Regions from separate parts of the Homo sapiens genome. Here region 2 is linked to region 1. Evidence: fine-mapped expression QTL. Tissue or cell type: whole blood. Region 1 holds a variant in brackets; the other region holds the start of a gene. All regions are shown on one strand. Distances are between the middles of the regions.

Region 1 (2,682 bases):
CAACTGGAACCAACTCTGGATGGAATCTAGAATTCAAATGGGGAGCTGGGGCTTCCTGCTTCATGACCTAGGACTTCACACATCCACACACCTCGACAGAAAATCTTACATCCTTCTACACTCATGCACTGTCTGGAGTCTCCCACTAGAATTTAGGCTGTGTAAGATTGAGAAGTGACAGCGTGCTGGCAGCCCTCGCAGCCCTCGCTCGCTCTCTGTGCCTCCTCGGCCTTGGCACCCACTCTGGCAGCGCTTGAGGAGCCCTTCAGCCCGCCGCTGCACTGTGGGAGCCCCTTTCTGGGCTGGCCAAGGCTGGAGCCGGCTCCCTCAGCTTGCGGGGAGGTGTGGAGGGAGAGGAACGGGAGGGAACCGGAGCTGCACAGGGCGCTTGCGGGCCAGCGCTAGTTCTGGGTGGGCGTCGGCTCGGTGGACCCCGCACTCAGAGCTGCCGGGCAGCCCCGCCAGCCCGGGTAGTGAGGGGCTTAGCACCTGGGCCAGCAGCTGCTGCACTTGATTTCTCACCGGGCTTTAGCTGCCTCCCCGCGGGGCAGGGCTCGGGACCTGCAGCCTGCCATGCCTGAGCCTCCCCACCTCCCCGCTATGGGCTCCTGCGCGGCCCGAGCCTCCCGGACGAGTGCCGCCCCTGCTCCATGGCGCCCAGTCCCTTCCACCGCCCAAGGGCTGAGGAGTGAGGGCGCACGGCACGGGACTGGCAGGCAGCTCCACCTGCAGCCCCAGTGTGGCATCCACCTGGTGAAGCCAGCTGGGCTCCTGAGTCTGGTGCTGACTTGGAGGCCCTTTATGTCTAGCTAAGGGATTGTAAATACACCAATCAGCACTCTGTATCTAGCTCAAGGTTTGTAAACACACCAATCAGCACCCTGTGTCTAGCTCAGGGTTTGTGAATGCACCAATCAACACTCTATATCTAGCTAATCTAGTGGGGATGTGGGGAACTTACGTATCTAGCTCAGGGGTTGTAAACACACCAATCAGCACCCTGTCAAAACGGACCAATCAACACTCTGTAAAAACAGACCAATCGGCTCTCTGTAAAATGGACCAATCAGCAGGATGTGGGTAGGGCCAGATAAGAGAATAAAAGCTGGCTGCCAGAGCCAGCAGTGGCCACCTACTGGGGTACCCTTCCAAACTGTGGAAGCTTTATTGTTTCACTCTTTGCGATAAATCTTTCTGCTGCTCAGTGTTTGGGTCCACATTGCCTTTGTGAGCTGTAACACTCACCATCAAGGTCTACAGCTTCACTCCTGAAGCCAGCCAGAGCACAAACCCAGCGGGAGGAACGAACGACTCCAGACACGCCACCTTAAGAGCTGTAACACTTACCGCGAAGGTCTGCAGCTTCACTCCTGAGGCCAGCGAGACCACGAACCCACCAGAAGGAAGAAACTCCGAACACATCCGAACAGCAGAAGGAACAAACCCCAGACGTGC[C/T]ACCTTTAAGAACTGTAACACTCACCGTGAGGGTCTGCGGCTTCATTCTTGAAGTCAGTGAGACCAAGACCCACCAATTCCGGACCATAACCATGTCCGGATGATAACCATGGCAAAAGCGACATCTACGAAGTGTTTGTCTGTTCCAGGCACCGTGCTATGCCGCATGGTCTTTGCTCTCTCCTGACCCCTGTAGCAACTGCAGGTCCGGGATCCTTTCTCAGATCTCCGCGGTCTGATACGTTTAGGCTCCGACTTTGTCAATTTTTGTTGTTGTTTTACTGTTTTCTGCTGCTGCTGCTGTTTTGTTTTGTTTTTGTTTTTTGAGATGGAGTCTCGCTCTGTCACCCAGGCTGGAGTGCCATGGCGCAATCTCGGCTCACTGCAACCTCCACCTCCTGGGTTCAAGCGATTCTCGTGCCTCAGCCTCCCGAGTAGCTGGGACTACAGGCGCCTGCCACCATGCCTGGCTAATTTTTGTATCTTTAGTAGAGACAGGGTTTCATCATGTTGGCCAGGCTGGTCTTCAACTCCTGTCCTCAGGTGATCCGCCCGCCTCAGCCTCCCGAAGTGCTGGGATTATAGGCATGAGCCACCCTGCCTGGCCGACTTAGCCAGTTTTTTAAAAGCTAGGATGGTTAATATACTGCATACGCTATAAATCCCCAGGGATCTAAGGAAGCCCTCTATAATCAAACACGAGCATACTTCCTTTTTTGTAGAGATGAGGTCTTGCTATGTTACCCACTGTGGTCTCAAACTCCTGGCCTCAAGCGATCCTCCTGCCTCAACCTCCCAAAGTGCTGAGATTACAAGCAGGAGCCACCACACCTGGCCTTGAGACAGTTTTAAATCAAATGCTGCTTCACAAAGCCTGAACCTTCCAGGCCCCGCCAAGAGACCTGAGCAAAGACCCACACCATGTAGGGAGCCCGAGTGTCAGAAGCGTGGACAGCTGGTTAAATCATGAGGCCTGTGTGAGTTGTGCCACCTGGCAAAAAGAGTGCCACATTCCTTCTTTGGGCCTCTGTACTCTGAAAAGCAAGGTCCTTGGAGGATTTGGGAGGGAAGGTAAAAGCCCAGGCCTTCCAGGACCTCAGGGGGCTGAGGCCTTTTTTTGTTCCTCCTCTTGTCCTCCCACTGGCAGGGCAGGGTCCTTAGGTTGGGGCCTTCCTCCCCGCCCTTACCTCTGCAGTTGCTTCCCTGCACTGTCCGTCACCAGCATGC
Region 2 (2,682 bases), 150 kb after region 1:
CACCTGGCAACAAGGAAGCCACAGGTTTTCCCCTGCTAAAGAAAGTCCATCTGCAAAGAGGCTCCAATCACCCCCAGACCCTCAAGGCAAAGTCTGTGTTCTATTTCCACCCCTGGGGTTACTCTCCAACCCCACTGGCTTAAAATGGGAGATATATCAAAGTGTGGTAGGTTATTAAACACAATGATACCCTACTAAAAAAAACAAACAAACAAAACCAAACCCTCCAATGGGGCCCTGGAGGATGACTTTTCAACACTCCAAATGCAACCCTCGAGGAAAGGCCGGCAAAACAGGACAAGAAAGTATTTTTGGAAGCTGATCACCAGCTCCTAAGAACCAAGGCTGTTTCTCCTGATTCCTAAACAAAAGAGGAGAGAGAAACAGTCGTGTCCAGATTTGCCTACTGCGTTCACCAACAATCAAGACAGCACGAGACAGAAGTGCCTGCCTTCCTGGAACAAAGAGGCAAATCGCATTACGGAGAAGCTGAAGCCCAAAAGACTGGGGCTTAAACCACAGCAAGTGGACTCCAGACACCCAGTCAGGCTCCGCAGGCCACGTTACAGAAGAAAACTTGCCGGGGTTAAATCTAAGGGGCATCCCCAGAGAGGAGCTCCACGTGTTGCAGGGAAGGGAGGGCAGGACCACAGCTACCAGGGTCCTGGGCGTCCTCAGCTGCACCCCAAGTCTGCCCCGAGCCGAGGGTCAGGTAGGGCACATCAAGGGTGGACATCCCCCTTCTTCCCTGGTTCCCCCAAACTTCCCCCGCAGTATCTAAGTAGAAAGAACAAAAAAAACAAAGCTAGGTAACCACAGAAGAGTAATGTGGCTTGTACGACAACTTTGGGGAGACAATGAAAGTCCCTTTCTACAATCTAAGCCCCTCCCCAGCTCACCCCGTTGGTCACGGAGTATTTTTCGTGAAAAGGGGGGACCCTAACCACAAAAAAGATGGGAAAACAGAAGCAGAGAGACACCCCTCTTCCCGCCCCCCATCTCTAGCGTCCCCTTCCCTGGAAGGTTGTTTTTACAGACGGGAACCCCAAAACAGGAAGGCCTCCTCACGGCGGCTCTGACCCGACCCGACCCTCCAAAACCCCAGGGCTGGGCACGCGGCCCCCCACGCTCTGCTCCGCAGGAACTGAGTCACCCAAGTTTCCCCCATGCCTTGCACCCCCGAAAGGGGCTGGGCCGCGGGCGACGTGAGGGTCCCGGGCCCCCGAGGCCGGCAGCAGAGCGGGGAGCGGGGTGCCCCGGGCGGCTGCGGGCCCGGTGCTTTCCCTCCCCGCCGGCCTCCCTCCGTCCCGCCGGCCTCACGCGGCCCCCGGCACGTACCCAGAGCGGGTCGGAGCCATCGGCGCTGCAGAAGCCCCGGAGCGCCATGCCGGTGGCGCGGGCGGCGGCGGGCACCGGGCGGCGGGTGATCGGGCCCGGTTGCTGGCGCGGGCGGCGGCGGGCACCGGGCGGCGGGTGATCGGGCCCGGCTGCTGGCGCTAGCGCTGGCGGCGGCGGCGGCGGCGGCGCAGGGAGCCGGGGCCGGGGCCGCAACGCCGCCTGGTTGGCCCGCGCGTCACGGGGATGCGGCGGCCCCGCCCCACCCCGCCCCGCCCCGGCGCCCGCTCACCTCGCGCGTCTCGGCGTGGGCAGCCGGACCAGCCACCTCTCGGCGCCCCGGGCCTGGACCCCGCGCCACCCCCACCCCAGATCCTCCAAGGCTTAGGCCCACCCGCTCGCGGACGGGCCTGGGGAGCGTTGGCTCGCCTTCCGGAAGCGCCTGGGATCTTTGGGGCCACACACCCTGCGACCACTTTTCAAATGCTGTTTAAGGACAGTATCCGTCACCAGGGGAAAATAACGTGAACGGAGCCCCCTACCTGCCTGGAGTGTACCGGGCGCCTTAACTGTGCCCTCATTTCATCCTGTAAAGTCTCCACGTTCATGAAGGAAGAAACCCAGGTGCAGAGAGGTTGAGTGATTCCCTCTGCCCAGGGTCACCTGGCTAATCACTTGCAGGGCTGGGATTTGAACCCGGTCCGCTGACTCCAAAGCTGAGTCACACAGAAGGAGGTGAATACTGTTATTCACCTACCTTTTACAGATGGGGAAACTGAGGTTCAGAAAGGCGAAGTGACTTGCCCGAGGTCACACAGTTAATAAGGAGTGAAAGTGGAAGTGAGATTCAAACCCGTGAGCAGCCTGATTCCGGAGCACTGATGACCCAGACGGCGCCAGTCTCCATCACTAACAGCTGTTGACCTCACCTGTGTGCAGAGCGCCTTTGCTTCTTCTCAACCTCTTTAAGCATCACTTAGAAATAACCAGGTTATTGATCCTCACCTCAGAGGTAAGGAAACTGAAGCCTGGAGACATGATAATCGTAGGCCAGGCATGGTGGCTCGTGCTTGTAATCAAGCACTTTGGGAAGCCGAGGCGGGCCGATCACATAAGGTCAGGAGTTCAAGACCAGCCTAGCCAACATAGCAAAACCCTGTCTCTACTAAAAACACAAAAATTAGCCGGGCATGGTGGCGGGCACCTGTAGTCCCAGCTACTTGAGAAGCTGAAACAGGAGAATCACTTGAACCTGGGAGGCGGAGGTTGAAATGAGCTTAGATCACACCACTGCACTCCAGCCTGGGCAACAGAGCAAGACTCTGTCTCAAAAAATAATAATAAAAA

What was found. PIP is the estimated chance that this variant, and not a neighbour inherited with it, causes the effect.
Region 2: it holds the start of ABCC1, and the variant in region 1 is fine-mapped to the expression of ABCC1 in whole blood (TOPMed, PIP above 0.99).

Annotation. Positions count from the first base shown.
Region 1 is chr16:16,102,678-16,105,359 of GRCh38, reverse strand. ABCC1 (ATP binding cassette subfamily C member 1 (ABCC1 blood group)) reads right to left here. Exons shown (of 31, transcript NM_004996.4): 20 at 2,643-2,682. Among named protein-coding and RNA genes, the nearest start is that of ABCC6, 120 kb to the left of the region's middle. The variant C/T (reference allele first, on the strand shown) is at 1,456.
Region 2 is chr16:15,948,456-15,951,137 of GRCh38, reverse strand. ABCC1 (ATP binding cassette subfamily C member 1 (ABCC1 blood group)) reads right to left here and starts at 1,522. Exons shown (of 31, transcript NM_004996.4): 1 at 1,339-1,522. The coding sequence starts at 1,386. It overlaps LOC107984869 (a long non-coding RNA gene), which reads left to right and starts at 1,967. Exons shown (of 3, transcript XR_001752339.2): 1 at 1,967-2,347.